Regions from separate parts of the Homo sapiens genome. Here region 2 is linked to region 1. A link means that fine-mapping ties the variant in region 1 to the expression of a gene that starts in the linked region. Tissue or cell type: esophagus muscle. Region 1 holds a variant in brackets; the other region holds the start of a gene. All regions are shown on one strand. Distances are between the middles of the regions.

Region 1 (8,111 bases):
TTATGATGACAGGATCAAATTCACATATAACAATGCTAACCTTAAATGTAAACAGGCTAAATGCCCCAATTAAAAGACACAGAAAGGCAGGGCGGGTAAAGAGCCAAGACCCCTCAGTATACTGTCTTCAAGAGACCCATCTCATGTGCAAAGACACACATAGGCTCAAAATAAAGGGATGGAGGAAAATTTACCAAGCAAATGGAAAGCAGAAAAAAGCAGGGGTTGCAATCCTACTTTCTGAAAAAACAAACAAACAAACATAAAAAATAAAAACAGACTTTAAACCAACAAAGATCAAAAAAGACAAAGAAGGGTATTACATAATGGCAAAGGGTTCAATTCAACAAGAAGAGCTAATTATCCTAAATATATATGCATCTAATACAGGAGCACCCAGATTCATAAAGCAAGTTCTTAGAGATCTACAGAGACTTATCTTCCACCACAGCAAGAGTGTGAGACTTTAACACCCCACTGTCAATATTAGACTGATCATTGAGACAGAAAATTAACAAAGATATTCAGGACCTGAACTCAGCTCTGGATCAAGTGGACCTGATAGATATCTATAGAACTCTTCACCCCAAATCAACAGAATATATATTCTTCTCATTGTCACATGGTATTTACTCTAAAATTGATCACGTAATTGGAAGTAAAACATTCTTCAGCAAATGTAAAAGAACTGAAATCCTAATAAACAGTGTCTCAGACCATAGCACAATTAAATTAGAACTCAAGATTAAGAAATTCACTCAAAACCACACAACCACATGGAAGTTGAACAACCTGCTACTGAATGACTCTTGGGTAAATAATGAAATTAAGGCAGAAATCAAAAAGTTCTTTGAAACTAATGAGAATAAAAGGACAATGTACCAGAATCTCTGAGACACAGCTAAAACAGTGTTAAGAGGGAATTTTATAGCACTAAATGCCCACGTCGAAAAGCTAGAAATATCTCAAGTTAACAACCTAACATCTCAACTAAAAGAACGAGAGAACCAAGAGAAAAAAACAAAACAAAACAAAACAAAACCCAAAGCTAGCAGAAGGCAAGACATAACCAAGATCAGAGCTGAACTGAAGGAGGTAGAGACAAAAAAAAAAAATCCAAAAACAAACAAACAAACAAACAAACAAGCCTTCAAAAAATCAATGAATCTGCAGCTGGTTTTGTGAAAAAAGTAAAATAGACTGCTAGATAGGCAAATAAAGAAGAAAAGAGAGAAGAATCAAACAAACACAATCAGAAATAATAAGGGAAATACCACCACTGACCCCACAGAAATACAAACAACCATCAGATAATACAATAAATACCTCTATGCACTTAAAACTAGAAAATCTAGAAGAAATGGAGAAACTCCTAGACACATACAACCTCCCAAGACTGAACCAGGAAGAAGTTGAATCACTGACGAGACCATTAACGAGTTCTGAAATCGAGGCAGCAATAAACAGCCTACAAATTAAAAAAAAAAAGTCTGGGACCAGACAGATTCACAGCTGAATTCTACCAGAAACACAAAGAAGAGCTGGTACCATTTCTTCTGAGACTACTCCAAACAATTGAAAAGGAGAGACTCCTCCCTAACTCATTCTATGAGGCCAGCATCATCCTGATACCAAAACCTGGCAGAAATAAAACAAAAAAAAGAAAACTTCAGGCCAACATCCCTATGAACATCTATGCAAAAATCCTAAATAAAATTCTGACAAACCAAAGCCATTATCCTCAGCAAACTAACGCAGGAACAGAAAACCAAACATGTTCTCACTTATAAGTAGGAGCTGAATGATGAGAACACGTGGACACACAGTGGTGGGAGAACACACACTGGGGCCTGTCGGGAGGGGGAGGGAGAACATCAGGAAGAATAGCTAAAGGATGCTGGGCTTAATACCTAGGTGATGGCATGATCTGTGCAGCAAAACCACCATGGCGCACGTTTACCTATGTAACAAACCTATACATTTGGCACATGTACCCGTGAAATTAAAACAAAAGTTGAAGAAAAAAACCTGAAAATTATTTTTAGAAACTTATAAAGAAGTGCTTACAAAGTTTTTGCATATATATGAGCAAGGATGTTAAGTGTACTATTGTTTGTCGTAAAAATATAAACTAAATTTTTATCTCTGGGATACTAATGAAATAAGTTTGGGGGCCTCTGTATAATGAAACACCTGGTTGATATTTTAAAAAGTTGTAAAATAATTTAAAATGTGATGATAGAAATGTATTTACATACAATAATTGTCATAATAAAGGCAAAATCAGGTTACAAAGTCCTAAGTGGCTTGGATCCATTTGTGCGTATACACGTCTATAGATATTTATCCACAGGTCTCAAAGAATATAAATTAAAATACTCTTTTTCTCTCACATAAAGCTTTCTCTTCAGCACCCTAATAGGTTGCAGTTTCTGTTGGAAGATGCTCAGTATCCTTATATACTTGGAATGACCTCCTTTTCACGAAGACTTCCAGAAAGCTCTGTAGGGTGGGCTTGGGTTACAACCCCTCCACCTTTCTGCTCAGCGATGTTTAAACTGCAGTTCAGGCTTCTGTCACAAGGCGACATCAACGTACCAGTATTATCAAACTTCTCTACAATGAAGTGTAAAAAAAGATAACCTCCCTTAAAACCCAGTTTATGAACTGAAGTACAGAGCAATTATAATTCTGTCAGAAAAAAACCCAGATAGGTGTAAATAAGACTGTAAAAGCATGTACTCTGGGACATCCATACCATGAAACACCAGGCAGCTTTAGTGCACCTTGGTAGTCTCCAACAGGCAAAGGGCAGTGCAGGGTAGCAGGAGGTGACTGGCAGAGGATGGGGGTGACAGAGTGGGGTCTGGGCGGCTGTGTCCCTTGTGTCCTGGAGAGGGGATCACTGAGAGGGGGCAGCAGAAGGTCTGGGAAGCCTGTACAAGGGTGGGATAATGGAGGGTGAGTGCCCTGTTCTCTGGGAGGGACCCTCCTAAAGTGTAGACATCTCAACCTACGCTGAGGAGGGAAGAGATAAATGAATGAATGTGATATAGATTTGGTGCCAACAGCAAAGGGAAAGGCTTTAATATACATGTTAATTTTCCAAAAAGAATTGCTATCTTAGTACACACACCATTACAAGATGATAAAGAGCAAACTGGAGAAGCATCGCGCCTGGTGACCAGAGCCAGGATTGAAGCTCTGGGAGTCAGATCAGGGGAGTCAGCAAGGAGTAGGGAGGGATGAAGGTTGGGATCTTGACTTAATGGTAATCAGCCAGCGTTTTCTGGAATTATTCTCCTAATGGTAGCCATCTCTCTGTATCTCTCATTTCTAGGGCTATCTAAAACTGAGATCGGTTCCAGCCTCTGTCTGAATTGAAGGTAAAATTGAAACTGTGAGTGTGTATTCGAGGTGATAGAGCTAGAGAAGACAGACAGACACACACACACACACACACACACACACTACACTGTCAATTCAGTTTTAAAACTCTACGTCTTTCACCAAAAATGGAATA[C/A]AATGAATGCTTTTTCAAATTAATGAATATATGTGCACATTACATTAGTCATTCTGTTCACAAGTATTTTTTGTTTTCAAATTTTTATCAAAATACTTTTTTTCCTGAACACCGATTTCAAACAATTTACAAACATATATTCATAAATCAAAATTAATCTGCACCTCTCACTGGCCCTACTTCTATCCCCTGACTCCCAAGGGGTCTGTTTCCATAGAATGGTGCATACTCTCCAGATGTGTCCCTGCAGGTGAGGTGCACATAAACACGTTCACCTACACACACAGTCTGCTCCAAAAGTGAAATCACAGTATTCAGCTTCTATTGCAACTATCCTTTTTCACTTAATATTGTTATTAGTGATAACTAATAATCTTATTAGTTCTTATGATTTTAGCATATTTAACATGTTTGCGTTTCACATATATATTTATTTGAATTATCTGTTGAAATTGGTTACTAACCATTTTGTTAGCAAGTGTTCTTCAGAAATCATGGATGTTAACGCTATATCTGATATGTAGTTAGTGAATGTTTTCTCCCCTGTTTCAGTATAATCACTAGTATTATTTTCATTTAGAATGTGTTCTAAAAGTTCAATAATATGATGAAAATATGTACAGGTAGTAATTTAAAAGAAAAATTCTTGAACACTTCATTAGAGCACATGTACTATCAGGGTTGAAGGAGATTAGAACATCCAGAGTTCTGGAGGCATTGGGACAAAATGTAAAACAAACAAAACCTCTAATTCCAGAATTGGCTACTGATCAGGAGATAACAAAATTGTCTCCCTGCTTTTACATAAGCTCTCCTTAGTTTCCTGATTTAAATAATCATCATGATATGTGTATTAATCTTTTCTCACATTGCTATAAAGAAATACCTGAGATGGGTAATTTATATTGAAAAGAGGTTTAATTGGCTCACGGTTCTGCATCATGATGCTGTCAATCTGCTCAGCTTTTGGGAAGGTCTCAGGAGAAACCTCAGGAAACTTACAATCATAGCAGAAGGCTAAGGGGAACCAGGTTTGTCTTACATGGCTGAAGCAGGAGGATGAGAAAGAGAAGGGGAAGGTGCCACACACCTTAAAACAACCAGATCCATGATAACTCACTATCGCCATGACAACAACAAGGAGGATGGTGTTAAACCATGAGAAACCACCCTCATGATCCAGTCACCTCCCACTAAGCCCCACCTCCAACACTGGAGGTTGCAATTGAACATGAGATTTGGGCTGGAACACAGATCCAAACCATATCAGTGGGTATCTTGAATAGCTGTTAGAATTAAAGGAGATGAAGTATAAAGTGCATTAGCTTACAGTGGTTCAGTGCATGTTACTTTCCTTCTCTCCTGGTCACCCATCCCAAGGCCAACACCTGAGCTTCTGCCTGAGCCCACTCATCAACTTCAGGTATCTGCCAACTCGTGTGGTCCTACACCTACATTTCTTGGCACAAAGGATGGGATCTCACCTCTATCATCTTCATTACCCAGAAGAGTTGTTGAGTAAATGCTTGTGGGGTCACAATAGCAGGGGGTGGACTCTGACCATTTCTCAAGCCCTGGAAGCCATCTTCTAAAAAGGAGGCTGCTCAGAGTCCTCTAGGAAGGGTGAGGGATGGAAACTCACCCCAATGCTGCCACTTACCTGGAAAGGTGACTTAGGCTCTGTGAGCCTGAACTTGGTTATCTGTGAAATGGGACTGACCATACCATCATTATGGAGCTGTCCCCAGGTGTAAATGAGAAAACCTGTCCAGAGATTATGGCATGGAGTAAAAGACGTCAGCGGCCCTTTAAATGCTGAGACACAGCATTAGGCGCTGGCTGAGCCTCAGGGCCAAGAAGGCATTGTGAAAAGTCATTTCTCATTGTTCCTTTTAATAAGAATACAGATATTTAGAGGAAGGAAGCAAATGTCTTTGATATGCCTTGAGTTCAAAGTTTTGGAGACAGAGATTTCTCTACATTTGGGGTGTTTTCAGAAGCTGATTTGGGTGTATTCAACATCATGAATCTGAGCAGACCCAAATCATTCTTCCCCATGATGGGAAGAATGTCTTTAAACTTACCTAGTGAGATCAATGGTAGATCGCACCAGGGAAACAAGAGGTCGGTCATGTTTGCCTAGTGGCTGCTCTTTGACTGCTCAGTATATTAATATATTTATAGGAAAATTCTGGGCCCATTTGCTGTCACCAGGGCAGGGGCCCTCAGCTCTTGCATTATCCAGCAATATCACACCAGGATTTCAGCCATCTCTGCCTCCTGGAGAGGCAAAAATTCAAGAGTTACTAGCATTTCCTTGACACACACTTGTCCATTTTTTCATTCACTAACTATATATTGATCTCTAAATCCATACTATTATGTTTGAGGCATCTAATGGGCTCTAAATTGTAAATAAGAGGATAAGAAAGGCAATGAATATATGGGCGACTTCAAAGGTTAAATTTGAGATGAGATGGTTCCTTCATATAATTTTTAAACTTGTTCAAGAAATTGAAGATTCAAAAAAGTTTATTCCTGACTCCTCATCCTCCCTTTAGCCACAGTATCAATATTCATTTTTTCTCTCTCTCTCTCTCGTGTCTTTCTACATTCCCTGATAGTATTCATCACTTCCCACTGACTATTTATACCACTACACTATGGCTTCTGTCCCCAGGATTGCAATAAACATCACCTTACCTATGTCATAATACACCTTTTCATCACTAGGTTCATTTTTATATATAAATATATTTAAATACAAAGTAGTAAGTACTGTATAATGACTTTCTAAAATGTATATGCTCTTATAGACTGCGTCTTTCACTTAACACAAATCTCTGAGTTTCCCAAGCTCTGTAGCATGATGTACTGGACACAAATCCAAGCTGTCCCACTCCCTAATTGTGCAGTCTTGGGCAAAGTTCTTATGTTCCAAGTGCTTTTTGGGTACTCGGTCTTTTAATGCTCACATGCGAAATAGTGCTGCTAATGTCCATTTTACAGATGAGATGAGAAACTGAGGAACAGGAAGAATAAGAATAATAAGAATACACTGGCCATTTTGATTTTTTCTCTATCTGTATTGGTCATTAGTATCTTTACTATGCCTATGGTATAAGCTCATGTTTATTCACAATCAATGACCTTCGAGGTATGTTGTTAGTAAAGTTTACCAATCATTTGACCTTAAGATAGGAAAATTATACTGGTTTATCTGTGTGGGCCCAATGTAATCATTAAAGGAAGAGTCTTTGAAAGCAGATGTAGAAGAGGGAGTCAGGGAGATTTGAAGTATGAGAAGAACTTGATGCGCTACTGCTGGTTTGAAGATGGAGGGGGCATTATGAGAAGAAAGGTGGACGGCTCCTAGCTGACAGCCAACAAGGAAATGGGGACCTCAGTCCTACAACTTTCAGGAACTGAAGTTGAGCTTGGGAGATGATCCCAAGTTCCAAATGAGAATGCAGCAAACTGACACCTTGATTTCAACCTTTTGAGACCATAAGCAGAGAGCCCAGAAGAGCTATACGATGCCCAGTCTTCTTACTCACAGAGACTATAATAAACGGGTGTTATTGAAACCACTAAGTTTGTGGTAATTTCTTATGGCAGCAATAGAACACGAACATACTTGGTAGTTTTTGGTCAGATGCCAGACATTGTGAGTTGTACTTTGTTGGGAGATGAGTATGTACTCCTATAAAGTTTTATTGTGAGAGCCAAGTAAGTTACTTGGAAATAATTGGATCCTTTCAAGGCTTTTTATCTTTTTTTTTTTAGGGTGAGTCCATAACACCTTTTATTTTAGGGCTATTTTAGCTTCATTACTAAGGTGACACCCTTCTTGGGACTCTAGGTGATGTCTTCTATGTTACAAGGTTTTCCACTCTGGCTGGAATGAACAAGAACAATTCCTAGCCCTGTTTGAGCTCTGGGAATTGTTCATCCTATTGCTTTCTAGTGGTTCTTTTCCTGATCTTAGATTTTTTTTTTTCACGTATGCTCAGATCAATTCTTAACAAAACACCCAAGGACCTCTTTGCAATACTGTGCAACTCTTTCTTTGCAGCTATCAACTCTCCAGAACTCTGCCCACAAATTCTAGCCACGTTGGTCTACCTGAACTTCAATGTTTCCTCAATTTAGACCAGTTAGTTGACGAAATTGTAGGACTTGCTTCATTTCCTTTCTCTAATAGATCTCACAGTCTTGCCATGACTGTTGTCTAACGTCTGAATGCTAACATACACTGTATTTTGTCCAGATTTCTGGATGAAAGGCTAGATCCAGTTTCTAGTCCTCTCTTATGGCTGGAAACAGAAGTTTCCGGGGAGCATTTTAAATATTAAAGCATGGATTCCATCCCAGAATGTTCTAGGGGGCAGACCTGGATATTGGGTATTTAAAAAGCTCTCTTAGTGATTCCAATGTGTAGCCAGGATTGAGAACTGTGGACCTGAATGATCTATAAAACACTTATAACAAAGGTTATAAGACTATAAGCCCAGCCAAAACCAGAATAATCTTTGCATGATTTCATTGACAAATAAAACTAACTTGAGATTGCTGGTTCAATAAAAAC
Region 2 (8,111 bases), 860 kb after region 1:
TTGCCCAGTGGGTAGCGAGTGAGTCAGATCCCAAACTCCACTGTATCATAATTTTTCTTGGACAGCTCCTGTCACCACTTATGTTAGCTCTTATCCTCTTAGAAGTAACAACTCAAATGGGAATAGATGAGCAAGAGTTTAACTGGGGACAACACCTGTGAAGGATAAAGGAGAAGGAGTGGGAGAAGGTGGAGAGAGTGTTCAGATGGTAATGCAGATCTGACATTGGTGAAGGAGAGCAGGGAAAGGAGGAAGATTTGACAGGAAGAGCCCTAGACTGTCACATAATCCTAAGGTTTCAGCTAGGCTGAAGGGGAGCTGTGGAGCCAAAGACTTCAATTACAGAAGCCCTGTAACTTACAGAAATGCAACTGAATAGTGCTAGTTATTGGCAAGGATCAGCCCATGGGATTCATGACCTCAGCATGAATGTGCTAGTGGATTCAGAGGGTCAGCAACTAGAACCATCAATCAACAATACTTCCCACAGCAGGAGATCTAAGTGGTGCATTTTCATGGCGCCAGATTATCTTATAAATTTTTAACTGAGCTAAAAATTCCTGATGTATGGCTGCTCCACCATTTGTGATTACTTCAGTTTTTTCAGTTTATATTAATTAATGATATAATAATATGGACTCAATTGCACTAAATATTTTTAAATGACCATTTGGTCTTCAATTGATTTTCAAATGGTTCAGAAAAAAATAATAATGTATTCTTCAATATGAAGGGAGAATGAGAAAGCAAATATAGCAAAACTGAGAACTGGGAAATGCAGTGAAGGGCATGTGGGGTTTTTCTCAAAAACATTCTATAAGTTTGAAATTATTTCATAATAATTTTTTTAAAAAAAGATCACTTACATAATGATGGGAGATCTTTTTTCTTTGTTTCATTTTGTTTTTTAACTGTGACAGGGTTTCCCAACTCTATCTGATATTAAAAATTATGTCAAAGGAGCTTCTTAAATGCAGGTTTTCACACCTGACTCTAATCTATTAAACTAGGATCTTTAGAGAAAGAGCCTAAAAATCTTAACCCCAAGTGCTTCTTATGATGTGTTAAGTTTAGAAAACATTACCTGGTGACCTTGAGAAGTGTATTTAAATAAAAAATTAAACAAAAGAAAAAATAAAATACAATAATAGTTAAAAAAAATAAACCAGGTGATATGGTTTGGCTGTGTCCCCACCCAAATCTCATCTTGAATTGTAACTCCCACAATTCCCATGTGGAACCCAGTGGGAGGCGATTGAATTACGGGAGTGGGTCTCTTCTGCGCTGTTCTCATGATAGGGAATGAGAATCATGAGATATGATGGTTTTAAAAACGAGAGTTCTCTGCACAGGCTCTCTCTTTGCCTGCCACCATCCGTGTAAGACGTGACTTGCTTCTCCTTGCCTTTCATCTTCCACCATGATTGCAAGGCCTCCCCAGCCCCATGAAAGTAAGTCCAATAAATCTCTTTCTTTTGTAAATTGACCAGTTTCAGGTATGTCTTTATCAGCAGTGTGAAAACGATTAATACGCCAGGCAATATTAAGCATTGGCAGACATGAAAAAGCAGGAATTCTCATACATTATAGATACCAAATTTGGACATTTTTCAGGATTGACTTCTATGACACTGAAAAATATCCACACATATATAGAAACGACTGTTCTAGAAATTTCAAAATTTGATATTAGTATGAAAATTTTATGTACACAGAAGTTCAATCAACATCATCTATGATAATGAACACTACAAACAACCCAAACATCTATAAATATGAAAATGAATATGTGTGTACAATAGCAAAGACTTGGGACCAACCCAATGCCCATCAATGATAGACTGGATAAAGAAAATGTGGCACATATACACCATGGAATACTATGCAGCTATATAAAAGATGAGTTCATGTCCTTTGCAGGGACATGGATGAAGCTGGAAACCATCATTCTCAGCAAACTAACACAGGAACAGAAAAACAAACACCACATGTTCTCACTCATAAGTGGGAGTTGAACAATGAGAACATATGGGCACAGAGAGGGGAACATCACACACTGGGGCCTGTCTGGGGGTGGGGGGGCAAGGGAAGGGATAGCATTAGGAGAAATACCTAATGTAGATGATGAGTTGATGGGTGCGGCAAATCACTCCATGGCACATGTATACTTATGTAACAAACCTGCATATTCTGCGCATGTATCCCAGAACTTAAAGTATAATAATAATAATAATAATAATAATAATAATAATAATAATAAGAAGAAGAAGAAGAAGAAGAAGAAGAAGAAGAAGAAGAAGAAGAAGAAGAAAATGAATATGTGTGTATTATCTTTGTTTTTGAAGGGAGATATTTGGACTGATTTAGAGTAAAATGTGAATAGTATATTTCCTGTAGCGGGGATAAAACTGATATTATCCTTCTACCTTACCTGTGTTTTCTAATTTTGCTGAGGGCTTTTTCTGGTACCTTGGGAACTTGCTCAGCCCAGGTGTAGGACAACTTAAAAGTGCCAGAGATTTTAACATCCTCAGCGTGACATCCACCAATAGAGGGCCAAGTCTGTAGAAAAATACCCCAACTTCTCATCACTAGTTAGGATAATTCTGAGGAGCACTCTAAATCATTTCTGAGACTTGGAGGGTCCCCAGCAGATTTGAGCCAGTTGCCTTTTGGTCTTGTCAGGATCTGGTGCTGTATTTAAAACAACTTTTCCATTCTATTATATAAAAAATAACATGCTAAGTTCTATTTTTAATGGTTTAATGTCTTTTATGCAAACATTTAGTGTCTATTTTTAAGTGTATGAGAATGATAAGGCACTTCATTGTTTTTGAAAATAGTCAATTATCCCGATACAATTTCTTCAATCTAACCTTTCCCCACTGATTCAAAATATTTCAATGCATTTACTAGCATTTTTTCCATATTTGGGTTTGATAATTGAATTTCTTTTCTGGTTCATTTGTTCTAAATTTATTCTGGTACACTATTATCTTAACATTGTAATTTCACAATACTTTTTAAACTTTTATTTTAAGTTCAGGAATACATGTGCAGCTTTGTTATATAGGTAAACTGATCCTCTCCCTCCTCCCATCCTCCACCCTCCTGTAGGCCCCAGTGTTGTTCCCCTCTATGTGTCCATCACAATACATTTTCATCTGTCAGGGTAGCTTCCCCAAATTATTGTCCTGAATCATCAGGGCTAGGTGTTATTGTAAATTGTGGTTACACTAATACAATTTAGAGGAGATCATCAGTTTGTCACAGGTTCTCAAGACATGAAAATCCACCAGAGAGGCTCTATTAGACTCAATGCATCATTTCACGGAAGGACATGTAGAGATCCTTCACGAGAAAATCACTTCTTTCCTTCTTTCCTTCCTCTTTTCTTTTCTTTTCTTCTTCCTTTCTTTCTCTTTCTTTCTTTCTTTCCTTCTTTCTTTCTTTCCTTCTTTCTTTCTTGACAGAGTCTCACTCTATCGCCCAGGCTTGGTGTGCAATGGTGCTACCTCGGCTCACTACAACCTCTGCCGCCCAGGTTCAAGCAATTCTCCTGCCTCAGCCTCCCGAGTAGCTGGGATTACAGGCGCCTGCCACCACGCCCAGCTACTTTTTGTATTTTTAGTAGAGACGGGGTTTCACCATCTTGGCCAGGCTGGTCTTGAACTACTGACCCCGTGATCCACCCACCTCGGCCTCCCAAAGTGCTAGGATCACAGGCACGAGCCACCGCTCCCGGCCTTATTTCAAAGTCCTTAAAGGAGGCAGGGGAATGCTTTCTGGAAGGTTTATATTTATAATATGATTCAGCAGGAGAAACAGATTGCCATGTTTTTACAACTCGAATCCTGTTTTTTCAACTGAAAATAATTGTATTGTCTAGTTATAAAAACAACAACAAAATGAATGCATGCTGATGAAAAATAAAAGGAACCCCCTTCCCAAATAAACAAACAAAAAGGAAAGTAGTTGAAGTGAAAAAAAAATTTGAATACCACTTCCTGCCTATTTTCCAGACTTCCTAGCCTCTCGCTCCCCACCCCTTCTCCGGGTTCCAATCTGGGACCAAGCCCTACAAGACTGTTAGGGCTTTACTTGCTGGACGTGAAGGGGAGAGAAGTGTGCGTTTAGGTGTATAGAAGAGGAAGAAGCGATTTTTTAAAAGCTCCAGCAGAAACCAGAGCAAGCCAAATACAAAATATTATGACCCGTTTGGTCGTGGGGATCGCTAAATAAAAAAATAGAGGGGTGGATAGTAGCCTGTGGTAGTGGTGGAGAAAGCACGAATGAAGAGAAAGGTGGCCCCGCCCACAGTCCCGCCCCCACCCTCCTGCCGCACTGCGGGTGTGAATGGTAATTGGAAATCTGAGCTCACAGTGACGTGACCCTTAGGAGACCCAGAGCCAATGCGTGGATTAGTCCCTCCTCCTAGTTGCAGTCTGGTAGTTGTCGCTGGCCGTGTGACGGCTCGCTGTTGCCCTGAAGGCAGGCGAGCCAGCTGCCCAGGAAAGGTGGAAAGTGGTAGAAGCTGACCCCTGAGCCCTGGCAGGTAGGTGGCGCTGACCGGTGTGTGAGCAGCAGAGGGCAAAGACCAGAGCGGGTCTAGGACTGGATACACACCCTTTCCAGATACACACCCGTTTAGTGCGAGAAATGGAGCGGTTGGGGAGAGGATCTCCCGAGGGGGCTGGATTGAGAATGGGTACCATTTGAGATCTCCTAGGAGGCCGGCCATCGGGCAATGTCTGATGGAGTCCAGCCGGTGGAGGAGACTGAAAGGAAACAGCCTGCTTCCTGCAGGTCCGCGGGAGGGAGGTACAGCCGGCAACCAAGGGTTGGGGAGGGCGGACCCTGCCAAGGTTTTAGGCCTGCCTTCTAGGTATCTTTTCTTCACCCTCTACCCATTTAGAGCTGGAAATGATAGGCTGCGGGGGCCGAGGAGAGGAATTGCTGCAGAGGAGGGGGACAGAGATTAGGTCTGGAAAGCAGGTCCCTATTGCGGCAGTTGAGCGGGCGAGCTTCTGACTGAGGGACAGAGGCGAGGAGCGAGAAACTGTTTTTGGTCTCAGCAGGTCGGTCGGTGTAAGCGTGGGCGCTACCTGTAGATCCTGGAGTGAGAATGACAAAGCGCAGAGACCGCAGCAGGTCCTAGTTTTCAATGCCCACATACCTCTTCACTCATCGTCCATCTTGATGCATAAAATGGTGGGCATGGGAGTGGGGATCGGGTGGAGAGAGGGCCTGATGGATATCTAGATTGAAATTCTTTGTGAATAAACTACGTATTCATTCAGCAAGCTCTTCTAACTCCCCCGCCAGGCAAGTTGCCTGCGTTGCAGAAAGGGTAACTAGATGACAGGTAAGAGGAAACAGTAGAGATGGGCGCCTAAAGAAGAGGTTAAAACGTTTTGGAAATAATCATCTTTGATGCCTATTTCTGGAAGGTGGGATAGCCTGTCACAGGGTGGGAAAAGAAGCCGTGAGACAGGATGGAGGAGAAACAGAAGGTGCTAATACTAGGAGAACCCTAAATCAACTCCCATTACCGGTCCTTTGATTAAAAGATCAGTCCTGGTAATTGTCACATTTGTCTGCAGGTCTTTAAGTGCGTTTGTGCAGCCGATTTCAAGGCTAAGAGAGAAAGACTGCCTCTGATCCCTGAAGGTAGGAGGTTGCCTGGGGCCCTCTGGTGTAGGGGTATCAAGGATCAGAGCAGAATCTGGGTGACTCACAGCCCTTCCTGCCCGAGTTGAGTGCAGGAGAAACTTAGGAGAGTCTTCATAAAATGACAGCCTGTATCTGATGAGGGAAGAAGGGAGTAGAGGGGCGAGATCTGGGGCGCTCCTGGAGAGCTTATTAGGATCCCAGGGAGGTGAAGTCTGGTCTCTCTATGATCGTCCCCCTCCGCTAAGTCGTCTTGCATTTTGGCGGTAGGAGTGGCCTGGGGAAGGGATTTTCAGGGAAAATGATGGGCTTTGGGGCAGCGCTGGGTCTGGGGCGCCCCCTACAGGGTTCATAAAGTTTCTCAGGTGGGAAAACCTTTGCCAAACAGAGCTCTGAATCCTATCAAGCATTCATTCCCTCTTCTTGCTTTTTATCTTCTAGGAAGAAAAAAAAAAAAAAAACAGGAAAAAAACTCAACATGGAAAATGTCCCCAAGGAAAACAAAGTTGTGGAGAAGGCCCCAGTGCAGAATGAAGCCCCCGCTTTAGGAGGTGGTGAATACCAGGAGCCTGGAGGAAATGTTAAAGGGGTTTGGGCTCCACCTGCCCCGGGTTTTGGAGAGGATGTGCCCAATAGGCTTGTCGATAACATTGATATGATAGATGGAGATGGAGATGATATGGAACGGTTCATGGAGGAGATGAGAGAGCTAAGGAGGAAAATTAGGGAACTTCAGTTGAGGTACAGTCTGCGCATTCTTATAGGGGACCCTCCTCACCATGATCATCATGATGAGTTTTGCCTTATGCCTTGAATCTTGAGGTTAATAATCATAAAATCCCTGCTTTCTAAATTCGCATTTTTCCTGGTGTACCTTTAATGTGAACCTTTTGGCATTCTTCTGCAATTTTCTGATTGGAGATTGCATTTTGACCTAGTCTGTAAGTTTTTCTGTCAGAAGAGGACTTTCATCAACTTTCATGGAAAGATGTTTATTGCATACTGTAAAGTTAATAAAGCAATTTAAAAGCAGTCTACAGATAGACTATTTCATTTAGATGTGTACGTATGCACACTATATATAATATATATGAAATATATATATATATATATATATATATATATATATATATATATGAATGAATGAAAACCAGAATGTGCTTTTTCTATGTTGTATAGTTACTGGTACTTTTAAATTTCTTTATTTTTTTCTTGGTTATCCACTTTTTCTCACTTTTCCAAAATGAATACATGTGTTTCCTATGTTTCAGGGAAAAAAAAAGTAAGAAGCAAGGAACTTGCCAATCAACTTATATAGGAAATGGGGGCAATTAATAAACACTTGAAACACAGTTTAAAGACATATAAATCTTATATTACCTATGGATCTCTCATTTAGAAACATGTACCTGATAATTACAGGTACGTTACATTATAAATGCCTTAGACGGCTGCTGTGGGAATCAAATGAGGTGATGACTGAGCTCTGTGTCTTGCTCTATTTATACATGCAAGGCTCCAGCCCTCTAAGTGCCCTTCATATTTAGGGAAGATTCCAAGGAGAGTGCCTATCAGCAAGTCCAGTTGATTTCCAGGTGAGTACGGGTTCAAAATCCATTATCCGAAATGCTTGGGACTAGCATTTCAGATTTCAGATTTCTGGGGTTTTTTTTCTGTTTTTGAAGCATTTGCATGTACATAAAGAGCTGTCTTGAGGATGAAACCCAACTCTAAACATGAAATTTATTTAATTTTATATACACCTCAAACACATAGCCTGAAGGTAATTTTATACAATATTTTTAATAATTTTGTGTGTGAAACAAAGTTTGCGTATATGAAGTCAGGTGTGGAATTTTCCATTTGTAGCATCATGTCATGTTCAAAAAGCCTTGGATTTTGGAGCACTTCGATTTTGGATTTTTGGATTAGGGATGCTCAACTGTAAATGCTTTTCTATTCATCTGCTACTCTGGCTTTCTTTCCTGCATAATACCATAACTATTAGGCACATCTTCCTCTTCTCTTGCGTTTTGCTCCCTCCACTGGCTTCTACCACTGCAGATGTACTGGACTTCTAAAGATGACAAAGACCCACCGATTTCTCTGGAACCTTCAGTAATCCGAATCCCCATTTTGCCTTTTCAAAAATGTATAGAGTGTCCCTCCCTGCTTTAGAGTTATAATTAAACCAGGCAGATACTTCACCAACACTGCTTATAAATGCAAGCAGCCCTTTATGGTTTTCTCCCACTTCCTTCCTCATCCCCTTCTCCCAGACAAATTTGAGTGACACTCATGATAGTGTGCTCAGAATTGGACTATCTCTTCCATCCTCTGATGAATATAGCTTAGTCTCCTTGACTATCAATTTTCTGTGCAGACATTGCTACAGGTTTCATTCTGCACATACACAGGAGTTGTAGGGATAATTTTATGTT

What was found. PIP is the estimated chance that this variant, and not a neighbour inherited with it, causes the effect.
Region 2: it holds the start of BEX5, and the variant in region 1 is fine-mapped to the expression of BEX5 in esophagus muscle (GTEx, PIP 0.98).

Annotation. Positions count from the first base shown.
Region 1 is chrX:103,012,212-103,020,322 of GRCh38, reverse strand. No RefSeq gene overlaps it. Among named protein-coding and RNA genes, the nearest start is that of BEX1, 48 kb to the left of the region's middle. The variant C/A (reference allele first, on the strand shown) is at 3,524.
Region 2 is chrX:102,152,303-102,160,413 of GRCh38, reverse strand. BEX5 (brain expressed X-linked 5) reads left to right here and starts at 4,437. Exons shown (of 3, transcript NM_001012978.3): 1 at 4,437-4,555; 2 at 5,604-5,670; 3 at 6,112-6,702. The coding sequence starts at 6,149. The coding sequence ends at 6,484. RefSeq lists an enhancer at 4,481-4,620.